Homo sapiens: one gene and its partners. The protein of the gene in region 4 interacts with the protein of the main gene of each other region in a biochemical or structural test. Each region holds a gene or a part of one and is shown on either strand. Other genes may lie near its edges. The genes, in order: CSNK1E, CTSS, PRKCH and OCLN.

The links.
Region 1: the proteins of OCLN (region 4) and CSNK1E form a complex in vitro, tested with the Homo sapiens proteins (one study listed by BioGRID and IntAct).
Region 2: of the proteins of OCLN (region 4) and CTSS, one has a biochemical effect on the other in vitro, tested with the Homo sapiens proteins (one study listed by IntAct).
Region 3: the proteins of OCLN (region 4) and PRKCH form a complex in vitro, tested with the Homo sapiens proteins (one study listed by IntAct).

What each region holds. Positions count from the first base shown.
Region 1 is NC_000022.11:38,300,414-38,307,446, forward strand, and holds part of CSNK1E (casein kinase I), read right to left. Parts: intron 2,836-7,033; coding exon 2,725-2,835; intron 2,597-2,724; coding exon 2,448-2,596; intron 540-2,447; coding exon 311-539; intron 1-310. Other genes in the region: TPTEP2-CSNK1E (casein kinase I), read right to left, coding at 311-539, 2,448-2,596, 2,725-2,835.
Region 2 is NC_000001.11:150,729,660-150,734,783, forward strand, and holds the end of CTSS (cathepsin S isoform 1 preproprotein), read right to left. Parts: intron 3,487-5,124; coding exon 3,387-3,486; 3' UTR 529-3,386; downstream 1-528. UniProt on the Homo sapiens protein: Thiol protease. Key protease responsible for the removal of the invariant chain from MHC class II molecules and MHC class II antigen presentation. The bond-specificity of this proteinase is in part similar to the specificities of cathepsin L.
Region 3 is NC_000014.9:61,324,555-61,331,587, reverse strand, and holds part of PRKCH (protein kinase C eta type), read right to left. Parts: intron 1-7,033. UniProt on the Homo sapiens protein: Calcium-independent, phospholipid- and diacylglycerol (DAG)-dependent serine/threonine-protein kinase that is involved in the regulation of cell differentiation in keratinocytes and pre-B cell receptor, mediates regulation of epithelial tight junction integrity and foam cell formation, and is required for glioblastoma proliferation and apoptosis prevention in MCF-7 cells.
Region 4 is NC_000005.10:69,551,775-69,558,622, forward strand, and holds the end of OCLN (occludin), read left to right. Parts: intron 1-1,795; coding exon 1,796-1,897; 3' UTR 1,898-6,330; downstream 6,331-6,848. UniProt on the Homo sapiens protein: May play a role in the formation and regulation of the tight junction (TJ) paracellular permeability barrier.

The DNA of each region.
Region 1 (7,033 bases), on a different chromosome or scaffold from region 4:
CTAAGCTGCATGACCTTAAGCAACCCATGTTAAACCTCTGAGCCTGTATCTTCCAGCCTGCACCAACAGGGCGGAGGAGGAAGCAGGGCCAGGGAAGGCGCCCGGCACACACAGCTTGGCTTACGAAGGGGAAGACCCGACTGTGCAAGGACACGGAATAAGCACGAGCTTGGGGGCAGACGGGGTGGGGACTTTCTCACTAGAAAAGAGCCTGGGGGCCTCCATCAGGGTAGGGGGTGAGAGGGCTCCAGAGAGCTGGGCCCCAGCCAGTGGCCCCGGGTGCACACTGCTCCAGGCCTGGCTCCCTCACCAATGCCCAGGTGCGTGTTGATGGAAGCGTAGCGGGCCGTGCCGGTCAGGTTCTTGTTTTCCCGGTAGGGAATGTGCTGGTGGGTGCGGGCGTCCCGGTACTTCTTGGCCAGGCCGAAGTCGATGATGTAGACCAGGTTGCCCTTCTTCCCCAGCCCCATGAGGAAGTTGTCGGGCTTGACGTCCCGGTGGATGAAGTTCTTGGAGTGGATATACTCGATGCGGCTGATCTGGGGAGGAGGGGGGCCATTTGTTCAACAGAGGGGCCCTTGCCTAGCACTCTGGGCCAGGCAGGGGCTGGGGCCACAGAGGTGGAAAGGCAGAGGGAGAAAGGCCTGCCTTCGACCATGAAGGATAACTAAGGGGCAGGCCAGAGAAGGCCTCCTGGAAAATGTGACATCAGGATGAACTCTAAAGGGGGAGTTCACCAAGTTGGCTGTGAGACAGAGAAAGAGAGTATTGCAGGAAAGCTAATGGGAAGATCCAGAAATGAAGAGTCTGCTAGAAAGGCAACTGGTTCCCCATGGAAGGCTTGCCTGCCCGGCCCCACACTCACAGGACTTAGGGAGCCAGAGAGGCAACAGATGTGGGCGAGGGGCAGGCAGGGAACATGGGGGAAGCCTAGACCAGGAAGAGGTGACAGAGGCAGAACACAAAAGACAGGGCTTCCGAAGGATGCCAAACTCAGACAGGCACATGGCCCTCTTTCCTTTGATATTTTTTTTTTTGAGATGGAGTCTCGGTCTGTTGCCCAGGCTGGAGTGCAGTGGCAAAATCTCGGCTCACTGCAACTTCTGCCTTCAGGGTTCAAGTGATTTTCCTGCCTCAGCCTCCCGAATAGCTGGGACTATAGGCACGCGCCACCACACCTGGCTAATTTTTTGTATTTTTAGCAGAGATGGCGTTTCACCATGATGGTCAGACTGGTCTCAAACTCCCGATCTCAGGAGATCCGCCTGCCTCGGCCTCCCAAAGTGCTGGGATTACAGACTTGAGCCACCTTTTCAGTCGAGTTTTTAAAACTCAAACTAATATCCATCCACATGCCGTGGCCTCTGGCTCTGGCCCCAGGTTCAGCACAGCTCAACATCTCCTGCACCTTTCTTGAGTTTCACACCATGAGGGGCTCTGGCGACCCTCTGCTCACACACCTTCAGCCTACATCGCAGGGCTTTTGCAGACCAAGATTAAAACCCCTGTACGAGATCTCCACATTCCATTCCAAGTTCAAAATTCTACAGTTTTGTATTTTTAAGAAGCTTTCCTCCCTATGCTGATGAAGGGCTTAGTACTTAACAACAGCCTGTTAGAGGGGCCTGTTTTGGCAAGGCGCTGAATGGTATCTCACCTAATCCCCTCAACAACCAACAAAGGAGAGACTCTCACATGAGGCCACTGAGGCTCAGAGAGGTTCGGCGTTCACCTACGGTCACTGGTCTGGAACAGGACCAGGTCTGTGTGACCGACCGCAGGCTTTACATTACCCAGGGCAGGCCAGACGTGGTGGATCATGCCTGTGATCCCGTGTTAATTCCCATCTTGGGAGGCCAAGATGGGAAGACTGCTCAAGGCCAGGAGTTTGAGACCAGCCTGGTCAACACAGTGAGACCCCCATCTCTATTTCTTACAATTAAATGATATTTTTGAAATAAATAAATAAAACTACCCCAGGCAGAGTCCCAGGCCCTGACTCGGCAGGTCTGGAGTTGGGCCTGAAATCACATTTTAAATAAACAACTTGGCTGGGCACGGTGGCTCACGCCTGTAATCCCAGCACTTTGAGAGGCTAAGATGGGCGGATCACTTGGTAAAACTCTGTCTCTACTAAAAATACAAAAATTAGCCCAGCGTGGTGGCAGGTGCCTGTAATCCCAGCTACTCATGAGGCTGAGGCAGGAGAATCGCGTGAACCTGGGAGGCGGATGTTGCAACGAGCTGAGATCGCACCACTGCGCTCCAGCCTGGGCGACAGAGTGAGACTCCGCCTCAAAAAATAAATAAACACCTACAATTCTATAGCCAGTGGACAAGGTCCCCTGGCCCAGGCCCATCCTCTGGCATCCTCTGGGGGCAGGAGGCAGGGCTGGTATCCTGGGCCCACAGGCATCTGGCTGGGGATGGAGGGGACGGGGACTCACCATCTGGTCGGCCAAGAGCAGCACCGTCTTGAGGCTGAATTTGCGGGAACAGAAGTTGAACAGGTCCTCGAGGCTAGGCCCCAGCAGCTCCATGACCATCACGTTGTAGTCGCCCTCAGCTCCGCACCACTTGATGGACGGGATCCCCACTGGGGGTCAAGCAGAGGGCCTCTGTCAGGGGTCAGAGGCAGGCAGCCAGCCACGCCCGGCCCACCCTGTGCTCATGGCTGCCCACCGCCACCCACCCGGCGCCCGCCGCCGCCCACCCTGCGCTCACCGCCACCCTGCATCATCTTGTAGAACTTGCTCTCGATGTGCAGCTGGGGGTGCTTTGTCTTCACACACTCCAGCTTGATGGCGACTTCCTCACCAGAGGCGATGTTGGCACCTGCCCGGGGCAGGGAGGCAAGGGACCAGGGTCACCCTCAAAGGCCAGGCAGTCCCAGGCGCCCCACTAAGCATTTCTGAGATCTGGCGTGTGCCGGGCCCGGGGCCATCTGCCCTTGAGGAGCTCTTGGGGGAGGCTGGGAAGGGGGCAAAGGAGCCCCGGCAAAGGGTTCCTGAGGGGAAAGAAGGTCAGCGCTGTGAGGGACAGAGGTGACACACAAGGGCTACCCAGGGCCACAGGTTGGGGCGACAAGAAGGCCCGATGTGAGTGGGGCAAGGGTCAGGTATGCAAAAGGCTCACAGACCACCTAAGGGAGGGGGCTGAGTCCTAGAGCAAATTCAGGCAGTGAGGTCTGTCGGGTTGAGATGGTGGCACGTGCAGAAGAGGCCCAATGGGGCTGGGCTGCCGAACACACCAGAACAAGCCAGGACCACCCTGGCCTACAGGATGAGGATGGGACAGCCGCAGCAACCCCTCAGTCAATGCTGATGCCTTCAGAGGCAGCCCTGCACATTCTAATCCAGTGTCTCATTCGATTCTCAACCCCCTTGTAGAGATGAGAAAACAGAGACCCAGCTAGAGACCCAGCTCAAGGTCACCTGACCTGTAAATGGCGGCCTTGAGATCAACCCCGGCTCTGCTGGCCTCCAGCATAGGTCAGAGGTCCTGCCTGCACCTCCCCGTCTCCCCCAGTCCACTCCTGGCTTCTCAAGGGGCTCTAAGAAAATACCCTCACACACACCAAGGCCCCGCTCTCTGCCTGGGCCCACTGCCCAACTCAAGAAGTCACAAGAAAGACCAAGCCCAAAGTGTACCTTGCCTCAGTTTCCCTGGCTGTATGGGTGGATGAGATGAAGGGCTGGGGCTAGGCTGGGCGACAGGGTGTCTCCTTCCTGGGGCCAGCAGCGAGCCCAGCAGGAGGAGTAGGACAGTGTCGCAACAGGACACAAACAGGCCAGAACAACCCCCAGGGACACAGCCTCAGGAGGAGTTCAAGACAGGAGAAAGGCAGGACCTCACATCAGAGGAAAAGATGAGACTGTTCATTAATAATGTCCCTGAACAACCGGCTGGCCACCTGAGAAAAGACACCATGGCTCACACCACAACCAGGAGAAATCTCAAGTAGAGGAAAAGTTTGTATATAAGAAATAAAGGTGTGGGTGTGAGTTGGCACAGCCCCTGTGCACCTCTTGGGTGAAGCTGAACATAAACAAACGCTCGCCCAAGCAACCCCACTCCTGAGTGTACATCCTTCAGAAACACGTGTGCACCAGGGGGACAGGACAAGGATGGACACAGGAGCAAACAGCCCAAGTGCTCAGCAGCAGAAGAACAGGAACAGTGGCGCAGTCACCAGGGAATCCCAGGCGGCAGTGAAGAGGAAAGGATGCCTGCTTCACACAATGACCCTGGTCCCAGGGGTGCACTCCTCACAGCAGCCAGAGGGTGGAAACAACAAACATCTGTCACAGATGCAAGGATGAATGGAATGCAGTGCCTCCATGCGGCGGAATATTATTCAGCAATAAAGAGGAATAAAGTACCGATACACGCTACGACACGAGTGCACCTTGAAAACATTCTACCCGAGGCCAGGCACAGTGGCTCACGCCCGTAATCCCAATACTTTGGGAGGCTGAGGCGGGTGGATCACAAGGTCAGGAGTCCGAGACCAGCCCAGCCAAGGTGGTGAAACCCTGTCTGTACCAAAAATACAAAAATTAGCCGGGCGCAGTGGCAGGCATCTGTAATCCCAGCTACTTGGGAGGCTGAGGCAGGAGAATCACTTGAACCCAGGAGGCGGAGGTTGCAGTGAGCCGAGATTGTGCCATTGCACGCTAGCCTGGGTGACGGAGTGAAACTCCAGCTCAAAAAAAAAAAAAAAAAAAAAAAAAAGAAGAGTGCAAGCACAGTTCTACTTGTTTCCATATCAAAACAGGCAACAAGACTGGACAATACAGATTTAAACACGAAAGAAAGGAAAAAGATTAAATGTCAGACGGTGGTTCCCAGGGAGGGACACCTTAGGCCATGCAGGTATTCTATACGTATTCTTTGCATCCACTCAACGTTTAATAAGAAATAACAATGAAATGTTAGAAGAAGGGAGAATTGCCTTATAGCCTTGGGGTTAGGCAAAGCTTTTATTTTTATCCCTGATTCAAAATCCTAAAGCCATTTAAAAAAAAAAAAAAAAAGCTCCTTCCTCTCCAAAAAAAAAAGAATCCCTTCTGCATGGCAAAAACACCGGAAATAAAGTCCTAAGAGACATACTCACTTGCAATTCTTATCACAGGCAAAGAGCTAATATGTAATGAGCTCCTACAAATCAGTCAGAAAAAGACTCAGCAGAAAATAGGCCAAAGGATTTGAAACACACACTTCACAGAGAAAGAAATCATTAATAGAAAAGCCTTACTCATAGGGAAAGATGCCCAACCTCCTTGTAAGAGAAATGCAAATTAATATGATCGTGAAAGACCATGTTTCACCTAGGATTGTCAAAAGTCTTACGAGATAACACACCTGTCTGTCGGCAAGACTGTGGGGGCGCTGAGCACTCCTCCCAGGTGGTGGAGGCGTCAACTGCTGAGTCGCCACTGGAGGGGGATTTGACGCTACTCAGCCCTGACCAGCAACCCCGCTTCTGGGAGTTTACCTGACATCCTAGCACGGTGCAAAACAAGGCGGGGACAAGGCTGTCGGCTGCAGGCTGTTTGGAACAGCAGAAGCTTGGAAACAACCCAAATGTCCCTCCTGAGGGGGCTGATTAAATAAAGAATAGCCCATCCATAAAACAGAATACAATGGAAAAAGAACCAGGAAGCTCTCTCTGCACACAAGTGGAAAGATCTCCAAGATACAGGAAGTGAAAAAGCAAAGCACAGAACAGTGTATATTCCACACTCTCATTTCAGTTTTCTTTAAAAAGGTGGGGAACTAAGTATCTGTGTTTGGCTCTAGCTACATAAAGAAACACTGAACAGAAACATGACTGTACAGGGCTAAGTGGGTCAGGGAGGAAGGGGTGGGGGACGCTTCACTGGATACTGTGTTATAAGTTGCAATTTCTTTCAACACCTTTATTGAGATGTAATTCAGATAACTCTCCAATTGAGTCACTCAAAGTGTGCGACTCACCGTTTTTAGTATATTCACAAGCTTGCGCAGCCATTACCACAATCAATTTTAGAACACAGGCCGGGCGCGGTGGCTCACGCCTGTAATCCCAGCACTTTGAGAGGCCGAGGCAGGCGGATCACAAGGTCAAGAGATCAAGACCATCCTGGCCAACATGGTGAAACCCCATCTCCATTAAAAGTACAAAAATTAGCTGGGCGTAGTGGCGCACGCCTGTAATCCCAGCTACTCGGCAGGCTGAGGCAGGAGAATTGCTTGAACCCAGGAGGCAGAGGTTGCAGTGAGCCGAGATTGTGCCACTGCACTCCAGCCTGGCGACAGAGCAAGACTCCATCTCAAAAAAAAAAAAAAAAAAATTAAAAATTAGAACACAGCATCTTCTTATCAGCTGATACCTTCGTATCAGCATCTGCTGTGGGTTCCGCATCTGCCGATTCAACCATGGATCAAAAATACGTGGGGGGAGAAAATAAAAAATAACAACACAACAATAAGAAATAGGTTGGGTGCAGTGATGCACAACTGTAGTACTACCACTTTGGGAGGCTGAGGAGGATTACTTGAGTCCAGCGGTTCGAGACCAGCCTAAGCAACATAGTGAGACCCTATCTCTACAAAAAATACAAATATTAGCCAGGCGTGGTAGCACGTGCCTGTGGTCCCAGCTACCTGGGAGGCTGAGGCAGGAGGACTGCTTGAACCTAGTAAGTCAAGGTTGCGGTGAGCTATGATCACACCACCACACTCCAGCCTGGGTGACAGAGCAAGACCATGTCTCAAAAATAAATAGGTAAATAATATAAAAATTAAAAATACAGTACAATAACTATTTACATAGCATTTACATTGTATTAGGTATTATAAGTGATCTAGAGATGATTTAAAGTATATGGAGAAGGCCAGGTGCCAGCATTTTGGGAGGCTGAGGCAGGCGGATCACCAGGCAAGGAGTTCCAGACCAGCCTGACCACCATGATGAAACCCCATCTCTACTAAAAATACAAAAATTAGCCAAGGTGCTCCCGTGGGAGCGCCTGTAATCCCAGCTCTCAGG
Region 2 (5,124 bases), on a different chromosome or scaffold from region 4:
GCCGAGATCACGCCACTGCACTCCAGCCTGGGCACCATTGAGCACTGAGTGAACGAGACTCCGTCTGCAATCCCCGCACCTTGGGAGGCCGAGGTTGGCGGATCACTCGTGGTTAGGGGCTGGAGACCCGCCCGGCCAACACAGCGAAACCCCGTCTCCACCAAAACCAGTCAGGCGTGGTGGCGCGAGGCTGCAATCGCAGGCACTGGTCAGGCTGAGGCAGGAGAATCAGGCAGGGAGGTTGCAGTGAGCCGAGATGGCAGCAGTACAGTCCAGCTTCGGCTCCGCATGAGAGGGAGACCGTGGGGAGAGGGGGAGGGGGAGGGGGAGGGGGAGGGAGAGCAGTTCAGGCATTCTTTACTTGAGAGCCACAACTCTCAAAGTCTCCTTGGATAGAATTCAGGGAATTTATGAATTTGTATGGGTAAAAAATTCCATTTTTATTTTTACTAATGTAGGGGAGAACATATGTTTCCTTCTATCCATCCTAGGTTTAGGGCTGAGATCTCTATAACAAAAGAGAGATTAGCAAGAGAAAAGCATGCACATTTATTTAATATAAGTTTTACACGACACGAGGGGCTCCATAAGGAAATAAAGGCCCAAAGAAACAGTTGAACTTGAATGTTTTTTATAGTAGGTTTGATGAAGAGCAGCCAGTGATGTAGAAATGTCATAGGGCAAAGTGTGAACAAGCTAAATGTAATAAACTGGGGGAAACTGAGAGGCCTGTTTGTTTAGATTCCTCTTTGTGTCCCTGTGCTTTTGGAGGTAAGGATGCTCCTTTTCTCTGGGTGCCAGGAGAGCACCTCTTACATGACAGTCTTATGATCTACTTCAGGGGAAGGTCAGAAAATCCTTCCCAGGTTTTATGGCTGCTTCTGGGGAGAACAGCAGGCAGAAGGTCAGAGTCACCTTCCTGCTTCTGCAATTTCCTCAAATGCCTTCAGCTTAAAATATTCAATATGTCAAAGTGCTGTATTTTGTGTAGGGTGTCCTGAACCCCGTCACTAACCTCTAACTGAAAGTTAGGATTTTCTTCAATTCTGAACATAGTTCATAAACCACGGTAATATTAGCAATACTTCATCATCAAAAGAAAAACCCAGATATTTTCATATCACATTAGTTTTTTGCATCTATTTTCATTATGCTTATCACTATTTCAAATTTAGGATAGCTATTAACTCTTATTTAATGCATTTATAAAGAAGCATGCATATTAATATATAACAAACTTATCTTTTAACATTTTAATAACTGTATTTCGATATAATTAGATTCCTTTGTAATCCTATATATTTTATGCATTTAAAAACATGATTTTAAGAAGGCATTCATAGGCTTTAACAGATAGCTAAAGACTAAGAACCCATGTTTTTATTCTACTTTCAATACTTGAAAAGTTGTGGATAAAACAAAAATTATGTTAAAAACTGAAAAGTAGGCTGGGCTCAGTGGCTCACGCCTGTAATCTTAGCACTTTGGGAGGCTGGGGTGGGTGGATCACCTGAGGTCAGGAGTTTGAGACCAGCCTGGCTAATGTGGCAAAACCCTGTCTTTACTAAAAATACAAAAATTAGCTGGGCGTGGTGGTGCACGCCTATAATTCCAGCTACTCGGGAGGCTGAGGCAGGAGAATCGCTTGAACTCGGGAGGCAGAAGTTGCAGTGAACTGAGATGGTGCCACTGCACTCCAGCCTGGGCAACAGAGTGAGACTCCGTCTCAAAAAACAAAACAAAACTGAAAAGTAATCAACTAAATACTTTTAAACTATAATATTCTATACACTTTTGATGATAGCCATGTATTATGGTATTATTTATGTTTTTATATTTAGCAATTCTTGTTCCTTAAAATGTGCTTTATGGAGAAGGAGCCAGAGTTAGTGAAATACGTTTAGGTTAATTTAGGATATATTAATGACATTATCCCACACATTGTTCATGTCATAGACATGAACTTAAAAAATTTAAAGTTCCTGCTGCCTGCTTAGATGCATCTACTAATCTAGAGCAGTTGTAAGGAAGATCCATCTGAATTAGATAAAAATATGAGCAGTGGAGTATTGGTTATTTTATTCTGGTTGGCTCAGTTATTTGCCAAATAAAGGCCCTGGTCAAATTGTTGATGACTACGTAAAAATAATTTGGACTAATACATTAAATTGTTGATCATTAAAATAATTCTTCCAAAGTGCTTGTCTTTTATGCATTTCTTTACTTTAACATAATATAAAAATATGTGTTGAATCCTCTTTTTTTAAGACAGGGTCTTGCTCTGTCACCCAGGCTGGAGTGCAGTGGTGCAATTACAAGCTCACTGCATTCTCAACCTCCTGGGCTCTTGTGATCCTCCTGTCTTAGACATCTGCATAGCAGGGACCACAGGCACACACCACCACTCCTGGATAGTTTCTTTTTTATTTTTGTGGAGACAAGGTCTCACTATGTTGTCCAGGCTGGTCTTGAACTCCTGGGCTCAAGACGATCCTCCTACTTCAGCCTCCCAAAGTGTTGGGATTACAGGCATGAGCCACTACACGTGGCGTTTTGAATCCTCTTCTGTACAAAGATACAATCTGAGTCCTTAGGACATTTATAGCCTAATATTTTCTTCCATCAAAGTTGCTAAACCCCATCACCAGAATACCACAATTAATATTCTCAGGATAGATTATTAATAGTTGCCTAGGAATAAGAATGGTATGTGGCAATGATAGAAATTTGAAATGGCAGATTTATTAAGTATTTTTAAGCCATCAAGTTACAAAAGGCTATTAGGGGTCTTAAAAAGACAAAGAGTATACAATAAAACAATAAGCAATTACAGATTGTTTTAGGTTGAACAATTTTTGTACAGTTATATCTATAGTACATTACTAATTTACTTAGCAAACTTTATCCTGAGATTTGCAAATTTAAAAAAATGAAGAATCAAACTATATTTTCTTTTCTGTTTTTTTGAAACAGAGTCTCCACTCTGTCATCCAGGCTGGAGTACAGTGGTGTGATCTCAGCTCAACATAGCCTCAACCTCTTGGGTTCAAGGAATCTCGTGCCTCAGCCTCCCAAGTAGCTGGGATTACAGGCATGCACCACCGTGCTCGGCTAATTTTTTGTATTTTTAGTAGAGATGGGGTTTCACCATGTTAGCCAGGCTGCTCTTTAACTCCTGGCCTCAAGTTGATATGCCTGCCTTGGCCTCCCAAGTACTGGGATTACAGGCGTGAGCCACCGTGCCCGGCCTCAAACTATATTTTCTAATTAGTACAGTAAATACACATTAATCATGACACAATTATTTCTTCTGGATACAGCAGGAAAAATTAAGTTAAGAGAAAGTGCTTCATATTTCTTGATTTGTTATAAAAAGGAGAGATCCTCTAGATTTCTGGGTAAGAGGGAAAGCTAGCAATCCCACAATGATTTCCTTTATTTCTTGCCATCCGAATATATCCTTCTTCACCAAAGTTGTGGCCCCAGCTTTAGAAAAAGAAATAATACAAAATTACAAATGCGTACAATCAAACCATGTTATCAACTTTTTATCTCATTGTTTTTCTCCTATAAGTGATTACATATGAAAGGCCGTAAAACAAAATTAGAATGAAATAAGGTAATAATTTCTCCAGGGATTTCAGGTAACTCAAAATAATGGTTTGGAAAGCTTTAGTGCTATATTGATGAATAGACTTAATACCTAAGGAAAACTATAGTAAGATCCATCCCAGTCCTTTAATCCTCCTACTTTGCAAATATGCCTTCTCTAAAGAAAGAGTATTAGTATCCTTTATAAGCCTTTATCTCTAAATTTTTTGATAACAGTATCATGTGTAATGATTTTCTATCAAACTTAAATTCCTCTAGAGAATGTCAATTAAGAAATATTTTTGAGTGACTACTATGAAAAAGGTATAGGGCAGGGAATTCTAAAGCAAACAACAAAAATGCAGCTCTGAAAGAGCTTTTTGATCTAGAAGTGGAGCTGACTTTCTCATAATTAAAGCTATTGAAAAATGAGCCAGGCATGGTGGCTCACACTTGTAATCCAAGTGCTTTGAGAGGCTGAAGTGGGAGGATTGTTTGAGGCCAGAGTTTGAGAGCAGCCTGGGCAAAATAGCAAGTCCCTGATTCTACAAAAAAAATTTTTTTTTAATTAGCCAGGCATGGTGGCATGCACCTGTATTCCTTACCTACTCTGCAGCAGAGGCTACTTGTTAGAGATGTTGCAGAGAAAAATCATGGGTCGGATTAGGGTTCGAGTAGATCAGTGTTTCACTTTTTGATTTAATGGACTTAGAGGAGTTCAAAAAGTTTTTACAGATAGATATACAGTTATCAATTTTAAAATTAGCATGTATGGACATCTTTTTTTTTTTTTTGGAGGTGAAGTTTCGCTCTTGTTGCCCAGACTGGAGTGCAATGGTGCAATCTCAGCTCACCGCAGCCTCCATCTCCTGGGTTCAAGTGATTCTCCTGCCTCAGCCTCCCAAGTAGCTAGGACTGCAGGCATGTGCCACCACGACGGCTAATTTTGTATTTTTAGTAGAGATGGGGTTTCTCCATGTTGGTCAGGCTGGTCTCCAACTCCTGACCTCAAGTGATCTACCCGCCTCAGGCTCCCAAAGAGTTGGGATTACAGGTGTGAGCCACCACGCCCGGCTGTATGGTCATCTTTTTTAAAAAGCATACTATTGGTCGGGCACGGTGGCTCAAGCCTGTAATCCCAGCACTTTGGGAGGCAGAGACGGGCAGATCATTTGAGGTCAGGAGTTCGAGACCAGCCTGATCAACATGGTGAAACCCCGTCTCTACTAAAAATACAAAAACTAGCTGGGCATGGTAGCATGAGCCTGTAGTCCCAGCTACTCGAGAGGCTGAGGTAGGAGAATCGCTTGAACCTGGGAGGCAAGGCAGAGGTTGCAGTAAGCCGAGATTGCGCCTGTGCACTCCAGCCTGGGCAACAGAGTGAGACTGTCTCAAAAAAAGAAAATAAATAAAAACCATACTACTTACTGTCACCATTATGTTGTAAAAGAAAATACATTTTAACACCAAAAGCAAAAAATCCAAAGACATAATCTCTATTTTAAGGATAGTCTTTTGAGTAAATAAATTTAT
Region 3 (7,033 bases), on a different chromosome or scaffold from region 4:
ATTGCTGGGAGTTGTATAACGAAATAAAAAGAGGGGTTTTTTTGTTGTTGTTGTTGTTTCTTTTTTTGAGACAAAGTCTCACTCTGTTGCCCAGGCTGAGGAGCAGCAGCTCGATCATAGCTCTCACTGCAGCCTTGAACTCCTAGGCTCAAGCAATCCTCCTGCCTCAGCCTCCCCAGTACACGGGACTACAGGTGCACACCACCATACCAGCCTGGCAGAGTTTGCTTTCTTTTTAAATTGGATAGTTAATATAATACTAATTTGCAGTAAAAGTTAACTCCCCATATATTTACTAGTAAGCTAGCTTTCTCTGAAATACTAGGACACAAATCTTTATGTAAGTAAAAATCTAAGTAAATATATATCTAAACTAATGCATTTTATAAATTAATAAATTATTACATATCTAAATAAATCTAAGTAAGTATATCTGTATTTTTGTAGATATAGATTAGATAGATATTAATACATATTAAATGTATGTATATTACACTTCTCATGAGTTAGGGCAAGCTTGTTCAACCCACAGCCCATAGGCTGCATGCAGCTCAGGACAGCTTTGAATGCAGCCCAACACAGATTCGTAAACTTTCTTAAAACATTATGAGATTTTTTTGAGGATTTTTTTTGAGCTCATCAGCTATCGTTAGTGTTAGCGTATTTTATGTGTGACCCAAAACAATTCTTCTTCCAACGTGGCCCAGGGAAGCCAAAAGATTGGACACCCCTGTTAGGGCAACAGTAATGATTTGGCTGGAACTTTGGTTCCCACATTCAGAAAACAAAGGCTTGAGCTATAGTGTCACAAAATTTAAAATGTCCCAGGTCCAAGCAAGTAATGAGTCAAGAGAGTTGGTTTCATAACAGGGAGTGGAGGGGTCTGTGGCAAACTGGAGCACCACAGCACTAAATGCCTTCAGTTTCAATGTTAAAAACATCTGTGCCAAATGAATAGACCTACAGGCTGTCTGCAGGCCTAAGAGCTATCAGGCTTTTTGTTGTTGTTCTGAATTAGATGATCATCCTGCTTCAACATCTATGATTATTTTATGATCTATACAAAACTTAAGGTATTTGATGGTTCAAATATAGTGTTCCTACTTTCTGCCTTTGTGGAGTCAAAAGTTCTTTTGCAGGTCATCTGTTCACAAGCATGGAAACAGTTCCCTCCCAAACTTTCCAAAGATGGAAACATTTCTGTGGGTCAGGAACATTTACCTTTCAAAAGGGCATCTGCGATGTCCCTCTGGGAAACATTATCAGGTCAGAAGTTCCTTTTCTTCTTTTGAGCAAAGACTGTTCACAGTCATTTAACTGAAGCAGGCTGTGGCTCTCTAGGCTGGGTCCTTAAAAGTCAGCTCTTTGTTTTTCCTCCAGGAAGATGTTCCCCACCTCCCCAAACCAGGGGCTTACCTGCCTGTAAGTACTTCTGTAATTCCCTAGTTGCTTTTGTTTGCTTTTTATCCCAATCTCCCTCCCCCTTGGAATTACAAGCCCTACGAAAGAATGGGTCATGTGTGTCCTGTCCACTTGACTTTACAGGATAGAGCACAATGCCTGGTACTTAGTACATGCTCATTGGTGGCTGGATGCTCACCTAGGGCTTGGCATTTCAAATAGAAACATGTAATAGTCTGTCAGAGTCACTACTACAAGAGCCAAGCGGATGAATCTTAGTCAATCATTCAAACAACTACACCCTGAACTCCCTGTGACCAGTGTCACACGCTTCCATTAGAGGCCAATCCATTCATACGTCCGTTCTTTCAGGTTGGAGGAGACAGCGGCAAAAGAGATCTCAGGATACTGAGGGAACACTAGGAGGAGGACCAAACCCAGACTGGCACATCAGGGACAGTTGTCTGGGTAATTAATGCCCATAATGAGACCTGAAGCACAAGGAAGAATTAGCAAAGCGAAGTGTTCCTCCTTTTGAGGAACTGAAAGATGCTCATTGTAATTTGGGGAAATGTAAGAGAAAAGGCTCAAGAGGAACACAGGGTACAGATCATGGAGAACATCCTATACCATTTTAAAGACTCTGGACTTTGGCTGGGTGCAGTGACTCATGCCTGCATCCCAGCACTTTGGGAGGCTAAGGCGGGCGGATCACCTGAAGTCAGGAGTTTGAGACCAGCCTGGCCAACATGGCAAAACCCTGTCTCTACCAAAAATATAAAAATTAGCCAGGCGTGGTGGTGTGTGCCTGTAATCCCAGCTACTGAGAGGCTGAGGCAGGAGAATCGCTTGAACCTGGGAGGCGGAGGTTGAAGTGAGCCGAGATCGTGCCACTGTACTCCAGCCTGGGCAACAGAGAGAGATTCTGTCTCAAAAAAAAAAAAAAAAAAAAGACTCAGGAGTTTATCTAAGAGCAGTGGAGAACCACAGAGGAGGAGTTTTAAATAAAGAAATGACTATTGGTTTGGCAATTGAGAAAGACTATTTTGGATACAGTAATGATAAGAGTGGAAAACAATGGACAGGGATTGTTTCCACTTAGGTCTCATTTTTATCACATTCTAATAAAGTGGAGCTAAGAAGTCAACACAAAAGGGGAACACAATCTAGTTGACTGTTTTTTCAGCTTTTTTTTTTTTTTGAGACAGGGTTTTGCTCTGTCATTTAAGCTAGAGTACAGTGACATGATCATGGCTCACTGCAGCCTCAACCTCCCAGGCTCAAGTGATCCTCCCACCTCAGCTTCCCAAGTAGCTGGGACTAGAGGCATGTGCTACCATGCCTGGCTAATTTTATTTTTTTGTGGAGATGGGGTCTCACTATTTTACTTAGGCTGGTCTCAAACTCCTGGGCCCAAGGGATCCTATTGCCTTGGCCTCCCAAAGTGCTGGGATTACAGACGCAAGCCATAGCACGCGGCCCCAGTTGCTTTATTAAATAAAAAAGGACTACCAAAAATCCCAGGCACCTCTATTATTCTACGCAAATGCTACTCTTCTCATAAAAATGCACCACACTTTTACCATCACCACTAATCACCATTCTTAACACTTACTAGATACCAAAACTTCACTAAGAGTTGCATAAGATAAAATGATTCACGTTCCACCCACCAACCTCATTCCTCTCCAAGGCTGAGGCACAACCTTTTAAATGCTGATGTCTTGCTTCTGCCCTGACTTTAACATTTTGGGCGTGAAAATTATAAGTGAAAAACGTTATAACGTATTACAAGTTTTAAAATCATAGTCTTTTAAAATGACGTAAGAGCAGGGAATTTTCCATACACAAGGTTTTCAATCCATTACCATATTCAAAGAATATAGCAGTCAGGCCCAGTCTTTCTTTTTTTTTTTTTTTTTTTTTTTTTGAGACGGAGTCTCGCTCTGTTGCCCAGGCCGGACTGCGGACCGCAGTGGCGCAATCTCGGCTCACTGCAAGCTCCGCTTCCCGGGTTCACGCCATTCTCCTGCCTCAGCCTCCCGAGTAGCTGGGACTACAGGCGCCCGCCACCGCGCCCGGCTAATTTTTTGTATTTTTAGTAGAGACGGGGTTTCACCTTGTTAGCCAGGATGGTCTCGATCTCCTGACCTCATGATCCACCCGCCTCGGCCTCCCAAAGTGCTGGGATTACAGGCGTGAGCCACCGCGCCCGGCCCAGGCCCAGTCTTTCAAGCACATATTGGTATGTCATTGATTGATTTAACAGAGGAATACTGTTCATCCAGTAACTCCTCAACTATTTTCATTTCTTTCTTTTAGAAAGATGGAAAGATGCTCCCAAAGTACTTACACTTTACTTGTCCCCCAATCACATAAAATTTCATTTAACAAATATTTAATGTTTACTACATATGAGACATTGTCCCAGGGTTAGGACAGTGAATAAGAGAGGTGGGTCCCTGCTCTCAAGCCATTTGTAATCTAAAGGAGGAAAGTATAATAAGCAAATTCATTAACAAAATGATCTCAGAGAGCAATGAGTGCAACGAAAGACAACAAGATAATAATATGACCAGGAAAATGCTCTCCAAAGGGGAAAATATCTGAGCCACAACCTGTTTGTGATGAGAAGCAGCCGGTCCCACTGTAGCAAAATTCTTCTTACAATGAAAATGAAGACGCTACATAGCCAATACAATTCACATACACTGAAATAAAACTCCCTCAAGATTCTAAAATATATTTTTCCTCTTAAACACTGTGGGTTGATCAGTCAGTGTTAGACATTCCTTCCAATTGGCTCAGAAAAAAATCAATCATGAGAATAAACAACGGCACTACAAAGTACAAAAGAGAATGAACCACTAGATAGAAAATCTGGAAGAATTTTGGTGGTATAAATTCAGACACCTGGATCCAGGAAGGAAGGGAAAAGATAATCCATGATTGTCCAGTAGTAACATGGCTGCTTCACCTGACAGGACTGATTACAAAACAGGTACCTCACTGAGAAATTGAGAGAAAGAGGCCCTCCAGGGCTGCAGAGAACACAATGTCTTCGGGAGGGCTGAACCAGGAAAACAGCCTGGGATCCTGCCAAGCCAGTCCTTCCTTCCTGAGGGGGCGCCAAGGTCTTTCCATGACGCAGCCTCCAGCTCCTCCTGCCTCCCCATGTCCCCAGCACTCTGCATTAAGCATTAGATGCTGGTCCCCATTTAGAAGGTCAGCAAATCAAGAGCAAGTACACGAAAGAAGAAAATAGAGTTTAAACAGAGGCAATTCTTCAGATTTTGGAAGCCAGAGAAATTATGCAAAATAAACATGTTCTAGAAGCAGCAGAAAAAAAACTGACAGTGATAATTTAGAAAATGAGACCATGTCCAAAAATCAGAAACTAATTTGTTTTATTGTGATTTCATTTTTTCTACGCTCCCATTCTCATAAATATTTTCTGCACTAAAGAGGAAATGTAGTTTTCAAGAGTCAGACTTGGCTCAGCTGAAATTCTGTCATTTACTAGCATCTTACTTAACACCTTCAGTAAAATATGGATAAGCGCTGATTGGTTTTTTTCCCCACAGCTTTATTCAGGTATAATTGTCATATAGTAACATGCACATACTTAAAGTGAACTATTTAATAAGCTTTGACATATGTATATAACTGTGAAATCATTGCCACAATCAGAATAACACAAATATTCATCTCCCCTAAAAGTTTCTGCCTCCTTTGTAATCCACCTCCCTTACCTCCACTCTCCATTTTTAGGCACCCACTGATCTGCTTCCTGTCACTATAGACTCCTTTTCATTTCTAGAATTTTGCATAAATGAAACCGTACTTTTTTGTCTAGTTTCTTTCACTCAGCATAATTATTCTGAGATTCATTCCTGTTGTTACATGTGTAATAGTTCATCTTTTTTATTGCTGAGTAATATTCCATTGTATGGATAAACCACAATTGTTTAAACATTCATCTGTTGACATTTGAGTTGTTTCCACTTTGGGGGTTATTACAAATAAAGATGCTATGAACACTCGTGGACAAGCTTTTGTATGAATGATTTCATTTCTTTTAGTAAATACTAAACAGTAAGTTATATAGTAGGCATATGTTTGATAGTTTAAGAAACTGCCAAACTATTTTCCAACATGATTTACCATTTTACATTCCTCACCATAGCATATGAGAGTTCCAGGTGCTCCACTTCCTCACCAACACTTGGTATGGTCAGTCTTATTAATTTTAACCTTTCTAGTGGGAACATACTGAGATCTCATTTTGGTTTTAATTTGCATTTCCTTAATGACTCATGATTTTGAGCATCTTTTAATGTGCTATTTGGCATGAAGGTGAGTGCCTATTGAAATATTTGACAAGTTACAAGTCATTTGTTGGATTTTAAATTAGGTATTTTTCTCATTATTATTGTGCTGTTAGAGTTCTTTTATATATTCATGTTACACATCTTTCATTTACGTATTGCAGTTATTTTCCCCCATTTGTGGCTTGGGTTTTTATTTTCTTAAACATTCTCTGGGAAGCAATAGTTTTTCATTTTGATAAAGTCCAACTTACTGATTTTTTTATAGTTGGTGCCTTTTGTACGCTATCTAAAAATTTTTTGCTGAACCCAAGGTCACTACAATTTTGTTTTCTTATAGAAGTTTCACAGTTAAACTCTTACATTTAGGTCTATAATCCATTTTGAATTAATGTCTTTGTAGGATGTGAGGTAAGTGTCAAGGCTCATATTACTGTATGTGGCTATCCAGTTGTTCAAGCACCATTAGTTGAAAAGACTATCATTTCCCCCACTGAGTTGCCTTCTTGGCAGCTTTATCAGAAATCAGTGGGTCATATATGTGTGGATCTATTCCTAGACTCTCTTCTATTCATTCCACTGATCTGTATGACTCTCTTTATTCCAATATCACATTATCTTGATTACGGTCATGTTACAGTTAGCCTTGAAATCAGATACTCTAAGTCCCCCAACTTGTTCTTTTTCAAAACTATTCTTAGACTGGTCTCAGTACTTTACATTTCCATATAAATTTTAAAGTCAGTCTGTCAATTTCTACAACAAACTTAGATTTTGACTGAGATTATACTGAACCTATTGAATACTTTGGGAAGAATTGAGATCTTAACCATATTGAATCCTCTCATCCATAACCTACAGCTAAGAGCTTCTCTGGATCTAGCAAAAACTAAGTCACTAGGTTTTGGGGGTTTTTTGAACCTGCAACTTCAATAGTTTTTTTTTAAGTCAGTAATCTGTAGTTCCACTTGCAACCATAAATTTATTATGGAGTAAATTCAATTATTCCACATTTAACTCTCTGAATAAACTACATGTCAATTTAAAATACTAAAGATAAATAAGTATTTCTTTAATCCTGAACTTCAAAAGCACCTTTGGGCCAGATGCAGTGGCTCACACCTGTAATCCCAGCACTTTGGGAGGTTGAAGTGGGAGGATGGCTTGAGGCCACAAGTTCAAGACCAGCCTGGTCAACAAGGTAGCAAGACCCCATCTCTATTTTTTTAAAGCATTTTTGAACCTATAAAGGATACTTTTTTAAAAAAGCATGCATTCCATATATTTCCAAATTTTTTTAACAA
Region 4 (6,848 bases):
TTTTCACAATGTGACCACATACCTGCGTATGCAGATCAAGAAATATATTTCCCAGTACCTCCCCACCCCCAGCACCCCCACCCTCACTTGTACTACTTTCCAGTGTTTACACTCTCTCCAGAGGGGTCCATCATGCTCACTTCTAACATCATAGAGTTTTGTCTATCTTGCACATTACATAAATGGAACCACACAGTATGTATTTTGTGTGTGATTTCTTTTGCTCAGTATAGTGTTTGTAAGGGTCCATTTGTAGTTCATTACTATTATTTTTTTTAGACGGAGTCTTGCTCTGTTGCCCAGGATGGAGTGCAGTGGCGCAGTCTCAGCTCACTGCAACTTCCGCCTCCCAGGTTCAAGCAATTCTCCTGCCTCAGCCTAGCTGGGATTGCAAGCACGCACCACCATGCCTGGCTAATTTTTGTATTTTTAGTAAAGACATGGTTTCACCACATTGGCCAGGCTGGTCTTGAACTCCCAACCTCAGGTGATCCCCCTGCCTTGGCCTCACAAAGTGCTGGGATTACATGCATGAGCCACCATGCCCGGCCATGGTTCATTAATTTTTTTTTTTTTCCTGAGACAGTGTCTCGCTCTGTCGCCCAGGCTGGAGTGCAGTGGCACAATCTCGGCTCACTGCAACCTCTGCCTCCTGGGTTCAAGCAATTCTCCTGCCTCAGCCTCCCGAGCCACTGGGATTACAGGCAAGCACCACCACACCTGGCTAATTTTCCTATTTTTAGTAGAGATGGGGTTTTACCATGTTGGCCAGGCAGGTCTCAAATTCCTGGCCTCAAGTGATCCACCTGCCTCCGCCTCCGAAAGTGCTGGGATTACAGGCGTGAGCCACCACGCCTGGCCGGTTGATTAATTTTTATTGCTTTGTAGTGTTGTATATAAAATGCAACTTTATTCATCCATTCTATTGTCAATGAACGTTTGGGTTGTTCCCAATTTTTGGCATTTAAAAATATTGCAGCTTCATACATATTTGTAAATGTTTGAGCGTAGAAGTGATGGGCATTTGTCTATCCAGCCTTAGTAGATACTGTCAAATGGCCTTCCAAAGTACTTGTACCAGTTTACATTCCCACCAACCACTACAGACTCCTGTTGCCCTATATCCTTGCTAACACTTGGCATGACAGTCATTATTGACTTAAAACATTAAAAAAAAATTATATTAAAATTTTTGTAAATTACTTATCCAGGTGCTGTGGTTACATGCCTGTAGTCCTAGCTACTAGGGAGACTGAGGCAAAAGGATCCCTTGAACCCAGGAGTTCAAAGCTGCAGGGAGCTATAATTGTACCACTTCACTCCAGCCTGGGCAATAGGATGAGACCCTTTCTAAAATAAGAAAAAAAAATTATAAATTACAGGCATCATGATTTGAAATAAGAGTTTAAAGGGTATACAGTAAAATTTCCCATCTCTCTTATCCCCTATTCAGCTTCCCTTTCCCCAGTCAAATGAGATCACCAGTCTCTTGTTTTACTTACAGTTTTAGATGATGTGTTAGCAAAAAGGCTGGTAAGTTTTCTTGGTCATTTTACAGATTTTTAGAAATGAGGGTATCCTTTGGAAAAACCCAGGTTAGAAGACAGAACTGAGCAAATAGAATCAGCTGCCTGTGTGGTTAGTGATACTGCCAGGCACCTTGCGTATTTTACTTCAATTAACACTCCCAGCAATTCTCTTGACTAAATATTCCATTTCTGTGTTCAATTCTGCCTTCCCAGCAGACCTGTTTTCATTTTGTTGAATTTATGTGATTCATTTTCTCCCTTTTTAGTCTGCAGATTACAAAAGTAAGAAGAATCATTGCAAGCAGTTAAAGAGCAAATTGTCACACATCAAGAAGATGGTTGGAGACTATGATAGACAGAAAACATAGAAGGCTGATGCCAAGTTGTTTGAGAAATTAAGTATCTGACATCTCTGCAATCTTCTCAGAAGGCAAATGACTTTGGACCATAACCCCGGAAGCCAAACCTCTGTGAGCATCACAAAGTTTTGGTTGCTTTAACATCATCAGTATTGAAGCATTTTATAAATCGCTTTTGATAATCAACTGGGCTGAACACTCCAATTAAGGATTTTATGCTTTAAACATTGGTTCTTGTATTAAGAATGAAATACTGTTTGAGGTTTTTAAGCCTTAAAGGAAGGTTCTGGTGTGAACTAAACTTTCACACCCCAGACGATGTCTTCATACCTACATGTATTTGTTTGCATAGGTGATCTCATTTAATCCTCTCAACCACCTTTCAGATAACTGTTATTTATAATCACTTTTTTCCACATAAGGAAACTGGGTTCCTGCAATGAAGTCTCTGAAGTGAAACTGCTTGTTTCCTAGCACACACTTTTGGTTAAGTCTGTTTTATGACTTCATTAATAATAAATTCCCTGGCCTTTCATATTTTAGCTACTATATATGTGATGATCTACCAGCCTCCCTATTTTTTTTCTGTTATATAAATGGTTAAAAGAGGTTTTTCTTAAATAATAAAGATCATGTAAAAGTAACAAATGTGTGAAATTTAAAGATTGTAAATATATATTTACTTTTTTAAGATCAAAGTTTAAACCCCGTGGTTAGAATTTTGTGTGTTTTTAAATACTTTTTATCTTTTTGCATGCCTTTTTTAAAAAACCAACTAGAACTTTTCATTATATCAGAATATCTGATTACATTTATAATTCAATTGTGACTTGAACTGTATCTTACAGGAATGTTCAATTTCTATACATATTTTATAAGGTATTAAACCTGGTGTTTTCTTTCCATAATAACCTGTTTGATGTTATTAGTGCTGTTAACATACAGCAATGGAAAACCACACTCAGGAGTTGTATCTGTTGTTGTTTATACTCCTTTGGATGCTGTGCTGGTTAGTCGTTTCCCATTCCTTTGGCTGTAAGAATGCTGATATGTCTGGGAATAGAATGCTATACCACGAAATACCAAATAATTTCAAATGGTGCCCTTAAATTGTATCACTTTTTTAAAAATTCAGATTCTTATTAGTAAAATTAGTTGATAGCACTGTGCTGACCAAGTTGATTGTGATCATCCCAGCTTAGACTTTTCTAAAAACTTTTTTTTAGAATAATCTATAAACTGAACTTTAGTATGCATTTCAGATATTTAGGTATATAATTTTTTTTTTTTTTTGAGACAGAGTCTCACTCTCACCCAGGCTGGAATGCAGTGGTGCTATCTTGGCTCACTGCAACCTCCACCTCCCGGGTTCAAGCAATTCTCCTGCCTCAGCCTCTCGAGTAGTTGAGACTACAGGTGCCCATCACCATGCGTGGCTAATTTTTGTATTTTTAATAGAGACGGGGTTTTACCATAGTGGCCAGGTTGGTCTTGAACTCCTGACCTTGTGGTCTGCCTGCCTCGGCCTCCCAAAGTGCTGGGATTACAGGCGTGAGCCACCATGCCTGGCCTAAGTGTGTGTGTGTGTGTGTGTGTGTATTTTTTTTTTTTTTTTTTTGAGATGGAGTTTTGCTCTTGTTGAACAGGCTGGAGTGCAATGTCGCGATCTCAGCTCACCACAACCTCCGCCTCCCAGGTTCAAACAATTCTCCTGCCTCGGCCTCCCGAGTAGCTGGGATTACAGGCATGCGCCACCACACCTGGCTAATTTTTTTTTTGTATTTTTAGTAGAGATGGGGTTTCTCCATGTTGGTCAGGCTGGTCTCGAACTCCTGACCTCAGGTGATCCATCCACCTCGGCCTCCCAAAGTGCTGGGATTAGAGGCGTGAGCCACTGTGCCCGGCCTATAATTTTTGATAGATGATTTTGAATTATTTTCCAGAGATAAAATTTTAAATGTTTCCATTATATCACTGATTTATTTCTGCAAATTGAATAAATTCTTAATTTTCTGCATGCACATAATACAAAAGGTATTTTCATAGTTTTGGATTTATACCAAATGAAAAGGATTCTCTTGATGAGCACCTTTAACTGATTTTTCTGTTAAAGTTTTAACAATTTGTTCTTGGAAGTCAGTTCGTGAAGGCAAGTTTGTCAGTATTTTCACAAAACTATTCAGCTGAATCCAGAAAGTGAAACAGCAAGAATTTGCATTGTAAAATTGTGTTATAAAATTGGACTTTGAAATTTCAAAAATAAGAAAAATTTTCATGTGTATTTATACTAAATACCGTTTTAGGAAACTAGGATCAGGGTGTTTCTGTTGGCGTTGGCATTAACTAGCTGGATGTAAATTTGAAAAGCCACTCAAGCAGCTTCCTAGTCTAGAAAGTCAGAGGTTTAGATTAGATTTCCGACATCCCTTCCATTTCTGACCTGTAGTTCTTGTCTGGAATTCTGCTTTGTTATAAACTATTGTTCTAAGGAGTTTGTTGTGATAGCACATAGTTCATTTTGTAAAGATTCCCTGCGTATAAAGTGATGCCCTACATATGTGATTTTGTATTAAAAGTATATAGGATCATTATTTTATTTTGAAAAATTTAAATACAGAAAAGTATAAAATATAAGTACCATCCGCCCAGAAATAACATGTGTTAATGTTTTGTCATATGTGCTTTATATTTTTTGAAATAAAGTGAAGTCAACTAGTATTTATAGTAAATAAGTTACATACACATAAGTACATATATGATATTTAATCCTCACAACGATCTTTTGACATGTGACCATTTCTTATTCTTCTTTTATAGACAAGGAACTAATGATATGATAGATTAACTGGCTGTTGTCACACTAGCAAGTGGCAAAACAAGGGATTAGGATCTTAGTCTCTTCAACTGTTAGATTCTATACTTCCATCCTGTGTTGACTTTGTTAATGGATTGGATAATGTGAGATCACTCTGATGTAAATAAAGTATCCTATATTAATTTCGAGTGCATTTTAAGTACTTGTAACATAAATGCTTCCTGTGAAATATCTGTAAAGACCTGAATGGGTACATGTGTGTAAAGAAGAATCAGGGCAGAAAAGTGCTTTTATCATGGCTCCGGGGACCTTAGCTTCAGTTGGTGTTGTGAGAATTCCTCACACAAGGACATTCTCCTTGCTTCAGCATCAGGATGGAAGTGTTTCTCATCTGGACTTTTTCAAAGACTCAGCTGGAGGAATCAGAATTCATAATTTCCTGGCAGCTCATGATTCTGCTACACTACACCATGCCATCTCTTGTGTGAAAGGACAGATTTGATGGAGGACTATGTCATCCCTCATGCGTTTCTTATTGTCTACATTTATTCTAATGGGAAGAAGTGAGCAAAAACACCTCAATAATTTGGGTAGTTTTTAGAAAACCTTGTTAGTAAATTAGAATAGTGCCACTTTGGCATTATGAGAAAGAAGCATGGATACATAACTAGGGTTTTGTGTATGACTACAACGAAATGCAGAATGGTGTCTCCAAAAGGTTTCCAATTGCTGCCACAAGAACTGCTTGGTATTGCCTACATGTGTTGTCCTATTTTTGCTTTGCCCTTCTGCAGTTACTTGCTGTGGGACCTTGGAGAAATTAACTTAGCCTCTCTGTACTTCAGTTTTTTGTATTTGTAAAATATATTTGTAATAATCTCATAGTTAAGAAGGTAGTTAATGTGTGACTCAGTCCTTGTCTAAAAGTAAATATGCCTAGCTACCCCCATCTTCCAAAGCCAGAAGGTGAAACTTTAACAAGTTTTCTAAAAGCAAATTGTGTTTTTTAAAAGTGCATGTGTCATCCAATCCCATATGATTGATCTGTGCTGGGTGCAGCCTTAGAATGTAAATTCTTTTGAATTCTAGGCAGAGAATGCAGGATTGGCATTCTAAATATTTGTACATGATAAACAAATGCTTCTTTAGGTTAGAGCAAATAGTTTACTTATCAAGATCACAATTGTTAGATACTGTTGTCAATTACAGAGGTTTTAGATGAGGCTTTCTGGAATGATTTAGTTTCCCTGTAAGGGAGCCTGTCTATTGGAATAGACAGGTTCACTTCTCCCAGTCTTTCAAGTTGCATGCTTTTTATATCTGATTCCACTGGCTGAGCTGATTGTGAATGTCCTAACCCTGTTGATTGTGTCTGGCCACTCATGGGCAAAGAACAGATTATCCATTCTTTATAGTTGTCTTTTAGTTTTACAAGTTGAAAAAACATCTGAGTAGGTTAGATAATTTATTCTACCACTTTGTAAATGATTAGAATATGTCAGTCATAATCATGCCAAGAGATTATGGATTTATGCATATTTTGTTTTGCTGTAGTACCATTCCTAGTTGAATCTTAACATCCATGTCTAAAATCTATACAGAACAAATATTACAGTTGGGAAAACTGTTTCAGTCTCCTCTCTTCGCAAATATGCTTTATATTTATTGGGGAGTCCTCTATCTTTTTCCTGGTTTTCCTTAAAGCCTTCCCAGGCTGATGGATAACAAACATATGCAAGAAACTTGGGGCTTGGGATTCCTCTAGGCTGTTTGTCCTAGAGGAATGCATCCCGTCTTGCAAATAGGATGGTCAATTAAGATGGAAGGAAGCAAAAGTGTGGATAGGAAGGAAGGGCACAAAAGGAAAAGTGTGGAATTTGTGTGTGAGTCCTCTAATGAGGTCAAAGGTGGGAGGGAGGCAAGCATGGAAGCTTCCTGGCACTGCGATACTAATTTCCCCTCCTCTCCCTTTTAAAATCCTGTCTTCTGGGAGGAAATGAGACTGATTATGGAGTTCCCACTAAGCCCTGCAGGGTTGGTGGAGACAACCCCATTTTACACATTAGTTCATAGACTTGGGTTGTGACTTGCTTGAGGTCACCCAGCCAGTGTGTCAGAGCCTGATTTTAAATCCAGGGCTGTTCT